2 linked regions of the Homo sapiens genome follow. The protein of the gene in region 2 binds, or shares a complex with, the protein of the main gene of each other region. Each region holds a gene or a part of one and is shown on either strand. Other genes may lie near its edges.

The links.
Region 1: the proteins of GIPR (region 2) and GIP are in contact, whole or in part, in a cryo-EM structure (PDB 7RA3), measured with the Homo sapiens proteins. Residues at the interface, in NP_000155.1 of Homo sapiens: Gln30, Thr31, Ala32, Leu35, Tyr36, Trp39, Tyr68, Trp71, Leu88, Trp90, Arg101, Arg113, His115, Asn120, Gln130, Arg131, Leu134, Glu135, Leu137, Gln138, Tyr141, Tyr145, Arg183, Ile187, Arg190, Asp191, Pro197, Gly198, Pro199, Tyr200; in NP_004114.1 of Homo sapiens: Tyr52, Ala53, Glu54, Gly55, Thr56, Phe57, Ile58, Ser59, Asp60, Tyr61, Ser62, Ile63, Ala64, Met65, Asp66, Lys67, Ile68, His69, Gln70, Gln71, Phe73, Val74, Trp76, Leu77, Leu78, Lys81.

What each region holds. Positions count from the first base shown.
Region 1 is NC_000017.11:48,967,178-48,970,777, forward strand, and holds the start of GIP (gastric inhibitory polypeptide preproprotein), read right to left. Parts: upstream 1,420-3,600; 5' UTR 1,340-1,419; intron 77-1,339; 5' UTR 56-76; coding exon 1-55. UniProt on the Homo sapiens protein: Potent stimulator of insulin secretion and relatively poor inhibitor of gastric acid secretion.
Region 2 is NC_000019.10:45,666,005-45,669,945, reverse strand, and holds the start of GIPR (gastric inhibitory polypeptide receptor isoform 1 precursor), read right to left. Parts: upstream 1,726-3,941; 5' UTR 1,648-1,725; intron 632-1,647; exon of another isoform or gene 470-631; 5' UTR 426-469; coding exon 354-425; intron 1-353. UniProt on the Homo sapiens protein: This is a receptor for GIP. The activity of this receptor is mediated by G proteins which activate adenylyl cyclase.

The DNA of each region.
Region 1 (3,600 bases), on a different chromosome or scaffold from region 2:
CCACTGCCAGGAACAGGGACAGCAGCAGCAGAGCAAAGGTCTTCGTGGCCACCATCTTCCAAGGTTATTTCCTGAGCTAAGACAGAAAAAAGCCAGGACATGTTGAGAGAGCAACCAGTAGGGGTTCTGAAAGCTGGAGAGGGGCAAAGCCCTGAGGTTTGGACCCTTTCTTTTCCTTTTTCTTTTTTTTTTTTTTTTTTGAGATGGAGTCTCGCTCTGTCGTCCAGGTGGGAGTGCAGTGGCACAATCTTGGCTCACTGCAACCTCCACCTCCTGGGTTCAAGCCATTCTTCTGCCTCAGCCTCTCGAGTAGCCTGGACTACAGGCATGTGCCACCACTCCCGGCTAATTTTTGTATTTTTAGTAGAGACAGGGTTTCACCATATTGGCCAGGCTGGTCTCGAACTCCTGACCTTGTGATCTGCCCACCTGGGCCTCCCAAAGTGCTGGGATAACAGGCGTGAGCCATCGCGCCTTGCCAGTTTGGACCTTTTCTAAGAGCCTGGGGCAACACCATGGGGGAAGATGAGGGGTGCTGTGCACTGGAGTTAGTGACTAGAAGGGACATGGAATCTTACCAAAAGATGGACCAGGCTGGGTGCAGTGGCTCATGCCTGCAATCCCAGCACTTTGGGAGGCCCAGGTGGGCGGATCACTTGAGGTCAGGAGTTTGAGACCAGCCTGGCCAATATGGTGAAATCCTGTCTCTACATAAAAGACAAAGATTAGCCAGGTGTGGTGGTGCGCGCCTGTGATCCCAGCTATTCAGGAGGCTGAGGCATGAGAATCGCTTGAACCTGGGAGGAAGAGGTTGCAGTGAGCCGAGATTGCGCCAGTGCACTCCAGCCTGGGTGACAGAGCGAGACTCCATCTCTAAATAAATAAATAAAGGAAACATCAGCGCTACCTTCTCATTTCTCTTTCTCTTTTTTTGAGACAGGGTTTCGCTCTGTCACCCGGGTTGGAGTGCAGTGACACAATCGTGGCTCACTGCAGCCTCGACCTCCTGGGCTCAGGCAAACCTTTCACTTCACCCTCCCGAGTACCTAGAACCGCAGGCATGTACCACCATGCCCAGCTAATTTTTTAAATTATGTGTAGAGATCGAGTTTCCCTCCATTGCCCAGGCTGGTCTTGAACTCCTGTGCTCAAATGATCCTCCTACCTCGGCTCCCAAAGTATTGGGATTACAGGCATGAGGCACCGCACCTGACTATCTTCTCACATCTCATATAGAGGAAGAGAAAACTAAGATGCCAGGGCTGCTGAGCATCTCAGGGTTGCCAAGATCCATCTGCTCTCGGGTCATCTCATCCATCCCTGTCTCCACTTCTCTTACCAGACTTCCTTTCCAGCTCTTCCAGAAGAAGGACAGATAGGGGTCTCCTTCCCCTGATTTCTGGACCTTCTGAGCCTGCTGAAGAAATCATGCCCCAGCTCCTTTATATTAGGCATAGACCTGCTGATTAGCCTAAAAGCATCTTATCTCAAGAAATTAAGCCCACAGCTCCTGCCACATTAAGTCCATTTTACACATAATAGAGTTGCCCTTTCCACCTGAACTGTGCTAATTGGTGATTAACATTTGGCTATCTCCAGCTGCTGTCTGGGGCCTGCCTGTGGGTAGGGTACCCTAAGTACCCCCTTTTTTCTTCCTCCTCCTCCCTTCTGGGCACAGGGCCCACTACTATTCTTCTATGCCCTACTTCCTTTACAGTTGCCCTCAGTTAGAAGGGATACTTGTAGGCCAGGCGCGATGAATCACGTCTGTAATCCCAGCGCTTGGGAGGACGACACGGGCGGATCACCTGAGGTCAGGGGTTCGAGACCAGCCTGGCCAACATGGTGAAACCCAGTCTCTACTAAAAATACAAAAATTAGCTGGGCATGGTCGTGCACGGCTGTAATCCCAGCTACTTGGGAGGTTGAGGCAAGAGAATCACTTGAACCTGGGAGGCAGAAGTTACAGTGAGCCAAGATCGAGTTCACTGCACTCCAGCATGGGCAACAAAGAGAGACTCTCTCAAAAAAGAAAAAAAGAAAAGAAAAAAGAAAGGGGGCCGGGCGCAGTGACTCACGCCTGTAATCCCAGCACTTTGGGAGGCCGAGGCGGGTGGATCACGAGGTCACGAGATCGAGACCATCCTGGCTAACACAGTGAAACCCCGTCTGTACTAAAAACACAAAAAATTAGCCGGGCATGTTGGCAGGTGCCTGTAGTCCCAGCTACTCGGGAGGCTGAGGCAGGAGAATGGCGTGAACCCGGCAGGCGGAGGTTGCAGTGAGCCGAGATGGCGCCACTGCCTGCCAGCCTGGGCGACGGAGCGAGACTCCATCTCAAAACAAACAAACAAACAAAAAAAAAAAAAACAAACAAAAATTAGCCAGGCATGGTGGCACGTGCCTGTAGTCCCAGCTACTTGGGAGGCTGAGGCAGGAGAATCGCTTGAACCCAGACCTGGAGGCAGAGGTTGTAGTGAGCCAAGATCGTGCCACTGCACTCCAGCCTGGGTGACAAAACAAGACTCTGTCTCAAAAAATAAAAATAAAAATAAAAAAGGGTACTTGTAGTGAAGACAGACTTGGGGTAGGGTGGCACTAACTGGCAGGGGGACACTCCCACAAGGCAACAGGCTACTTCTGGGTGGGAGAGAGTAGGTCCACAGTCATCTGAATCCCAGCTCTGGACAGTGGCCTATGGCTTTGGTGATGTGGCAATGCCCCCATCACATTATCTAGAGAGGTGTCCCAAGGGCTCAATGTTGAGGGAATATGAAGGATCGGGGTTTCCTAGGGACAGCTGGATAAACTGAGAACATACATTCAAGCTGTCTTCCTGCTCAGGGGCAGGATAAAGCAGGAGAAAGAGACATGTTTGTACCTCAGGGGCTCACAGGAGGGTGGGGTAGTTACAACTTTATCTATAGAGATTTAGGAGCCCCTCTCCTCATATGTCCTACTGTCCTGTACAAGAGAAGTATGTCATCCTGTCTCTTCTATCAGAGTGAAGACCCTGGAGTTATGCTGTGCCTCTCTATTATACAGGAGCCACTCCAAGGCAGGGGCTTTCTGTCCCTGATCTGCCTGGGAGCTCTCTGAGAGGAGGAGGAGAGCTGGAGGCGATGTTCCCCCAGCACACTGAGGCTTTCTGAGGCTAAGGGCTGTGTCTCCCCCTCAGACTGGAGACTCCTTGGGATACTCCCTTTGCCTTTCTCCAAGTACTTAGCACATGGCTCTGTCCACAGGGGCTCTCAGTCTAGAAGGGGCAGGGCACAGATTGCATTTTTGGCAGACCTCCAAGGCGTTCTTTCCAGGCTCCTCCTCTGCCGCCGCCATGGGTACTTGGGACCATAAACAGCCAAGCTCATGCTCTGCCTATCAGCTCCAGGTCCTAATAAAGGCCACCTTCCTTTCCAGGTGAACACCCTAGCCTAGGAGCAGATCCAGCATGAAATTAAGTGTGCGTGTGGGATGAGAGGTACCTGGACTAGCAGGGTCACTTACCTCTGCCTCCTGGAAACCTCCTCTGCATACCCACCCATTCTCCACCATCTAGAAAAACTCCTCCCTTAGCAAGCTCTCCAAATTCCATCTCCCAGC
Region 2 (3,941 bases):
ACAGAGTCTCACTCTGTCACCCAAGTTAGAGTGCAGTGGCGCGATCTCGGCTCACCGCAACCTCTGCCTCCCGGGCTCAAGCGATTCTCCTGCCTCAGCCTTCCGAGTAGCTGGGATTACAGGCGGCCGCCACCACGCCCGGCTAATTTTTGTATTTTTTTTAGTAGAGAGGGAGTTTCACCATGTTGGCCAGGCTGGTCTCGAACTCCTGGCCTCAAGTGATCCACCCGCTTCGGCCTCCCAAAGTGCTGGGATTACAGGCGTGAGCGACAGCGCCCTGACGACGGAAGCCCTAAAACCGTCCCCATACCTCCCTCCAAGCCTGGAGCTCCTCTGGCTCCTCGCTTCCTCACCTCCGCCCTCTGGAGCAGCAGCCCGCACAGTGAGAGCCGCAGCAGCAGCTGCAGGATCGGAGAGGTAGTCATCGTGAGGGCGGCGAAGGGTCTGGTTCGTGCAGGGGCGATCAGGCCTGGAGGGTCCCAGGGCAAGGTCAGCACCTCTGCCCTCCTACTCCAACCCCAGCGTCACCCCGCCTCAGGGATTCACACACAGGGGCAGACGGCTGGGGAGCCGTATACACGCGGGACTCCGAGGCAGCGCACCCGCTCCCGCAACTCCCAGGCGTGATGATCTGGGGGGAGGGAGAGGCACGCGGAGTGGGTGGAACTCCGGTGGTGGGCGGGGCCCCTTAAGTGATTCCCCGGCCTCCCCTGACTGTTGTTGGGGCAGCAAAGGTGGAAGGGGGGGGTGTTTGCTGAGCGGGCGGTTGCCCTAGAGCTACGCTGGGCGGAAGTGTCAGTGTCACCGAAGTCTGGACCTACAGACTCCTGGGAACCCGGGGACCGCCTTGGAGAGGAGGGGGTAGAAACCGTCAGCCTAGACCCCTTTTCTATGGGGAACTGAAAAACTTGAAGGTTTTCAGTACCCCCTAGTGGGGTACTTGAAACGCCCATCTGAGTTCCCACAGCCTGGTGGAGAACTTGAAACGCCCATCCGAGCTCCCACTCTCCAAGCCCAAAGGGTTTTCTAGCACACATAGGAACCTGACCTTACAAAACTTTCCCCGCTGGGGGTAGATAAAGCCCAGAGTAAGTGGAACAACCCTTTCCCAGCATCCAAATACTTAGGGACTAGAGAAGCGACAGATCCGGGGTTAGATGTGCAGATGCCTGGAAATCGGTCTAACGCCCGACACCCACTCACCCGCGCCCCCGCGGCTCCACGTAGAGAAAGACGGAAGCAGAGAGGATCTCAGGTCGAGCCTCAGAAGGACAGACAACGGCGTCACAGACACAAGAGACAGAAATGTAAAGACTGAGAGGCGCAGAGACGGAGGGACAGAATGAGACCCCCAGCCAGAGACCAGAGAAAAACAAACAGAGAAAGAGACGCAGATGTGGGCTAGGAGACAAAGAAGAGGCAGAGACGTGGAGGGAGACAGAGCAGGGGAAAGAGAAGTTATCTAGCAGCTAACCAGAGATGGAAACACGCAGACAGAGACATCAAGAGACAGAGATGAGCAGAGATGGTGGTGGGCACAGAGACAGAGAGACAAAGGCAGGGCAGAGAAGCAGAGAGGGAGAGTGCCAGAGACTTGAGAGGTCAAGGGGGGGCAGGGAGAATGGGCTGGGATTGGGGAGCCCTCACCTGTCCCCAGTCCTGCTCCTGGTCACTTGCTCCTGCAGCCCCTGCCACCGCTGCCTCCAACTGCCTTGTCTCGGCTCTGGGAGAGGTGACAGGCGCTGGCAGCCCGGGGTGATGGGAGGGGGCGGGGCCAAGGCGGGACAGGGAACGGAAGCGGGGAGCTCTGGGGCAGAGAGCCGAGCAGGGGGCAGTCATCAAGGTCATGAGGGAGGGCAGTTACTGAATTGTCCTTATCGTCCTGAGGACCCCTGCACCAAGTGTGTACAATCTCTCATGCTGTCCCACCCACAGGTACCCGCCCCCACCGCCACTCATTCCCAGAGCCTCAGTCACTCAATCAAACATGCAGTGTCACACACAATCCCATAGGCTGAGCCATGGAAAGGCACAGTCACAGAACCTCACAAGCTGTTACTCACACAGTCACACATTCAGTCACACCCATACAGTCCCATGGTCACACCCAGACAGCCACAGTCTCTCACTCACAGGTGGACAGTCATCCACTGTGACACACAGTCATGTACCCAGGGCTATGGACTCCTGCACACACACAGTAACGCTCACAGTGTCTCACAGTTCCAACAACACTGTCAATCACCCACACATTCACGCAATCACCGGGTTTCATCACAAACACTGTTGCCCTGCTAGCCTGTGTGGCCCAGGAGGGTAGAGCCAGGACATCTGGGTCACCACTGGGTCCCCAAAATCGTTAAGAGCAGGGGTTCAAGGAAGGATTGTCATGAAATAAATATACGCAGTATGCAGTTGTGTGGTTACTCGCAGACATAGAATTTTTTTTTTTTGAGACAGAGTCTTCCTCTGTTGCTGAGGCTGGAGTACAGAAGCATGATCTCAGCTCACTGCAACCTCCGCCTCCTGGGTTCAAGCAATTCTCCCACCGCAGCCTCCCAAGTAGCTGGGATTCCAGGCACACACCACCACAACCGACTAATTTTTGTATTTTTAGTAGAGACGGTGTTTCACCATGTTGCCCAGGCTGGTCTCAAACTCCTGACCTCAGGTGTTCCACATGTCTTGGCCTTCCAAAGTGGTGGGATTACAGGCGACAGCCACCACACCCGGCCCATACAATCCTTTTTACATTTTATTTATTTATTTATTTATGAGAGTGGAGTGCACTGGAACAATTATAGCTCACTGCAGCCTCCACTTCCTGGGCTCAAGGGATCCTCTTAACTCAGCCTCTTGACTAGCTGGGACTATGGGCATGAGCCACCATGCCCCACCATTTTATTAAAAAATAATTTCAACTTTTTTTTTTTTGAGACAGGGTCTCACTCTGTCACCCAGGATGGAGTGCAGTGGCGCCATCTTGGCTCACTTCAACCTCCGCCTCCAGGGTTCAGGAGATTCTCCTGCCTCAGCCTCCCGAGTAGCTGGGACTACAGGTGTGTGCCACCACACCCAGCTAAAATTTTTGTATTTTTAGTAGAGATGGGGTTTCACCATGTTGGCCATGCTGGTCTCCAACTCTTGGCCTCAAGCAATCCTCCTGCCTCGGCCTCCCAAAGTGCTGGGACTACAGGGATGTGCCATCACACCCAGCCTCAACTTTTATTTATTTATTTATTCATTTATTTTAATTCATTTTATTTATTATTTTTTCTAGACAGGGTCTCACTCTGTCACCCAGGCTGGAGTGCAGTGGCGCCAACTTGGCAACCTCTGCCTCTTGGGTTCAGGCGATTCTCATGCCTCAACCACCAGAGTAGCTGGGACTACAGGTGTATGCCACCACGCCTGGCTGATTTTTATATTTTTAGTAGAGATGAGGTTTCACCATGTTGGCCATATTGTTCTCCAACTCCTGGCCTCAAGTGATCCTCCCGCCTTGGCCTCCCAAAGTGCTGGGATTACAGGTATGAACCACCGCGCCTGGCCTTAACTTTTATTTTAGATTCAGGGGGCACATGTGCAGGTTTGTCACGGGGGTGTATTGCACGATGCGGAGGTTGGGGGTATAAATGATCCCATCATCCAGGTAGTGAGCATGGCACCCAACGGGTAGTTTTTTAACCCTTGTCTCCTTCCCTGCCCCCTCTAGGAGTCCCCAGTGTCTGTTGTTCGCATGTTGGTGTCCATGTGTACCCAGTGCTCAGCTCCCACTTATAAGTAAGAGCATCTGGTGTTTGGATTTCTGTTCCTTTGTTAATTCACTTAGGATACTGGCCTCCAGCTGCATCTGTGTTGCTGCAAAGGACTTTCCTTTCCTTTTCCTCTCCCCTCTCCCCTCTCCCCTCCCCCCTCCCTTCCTCCCTTTCTCCCTTTCT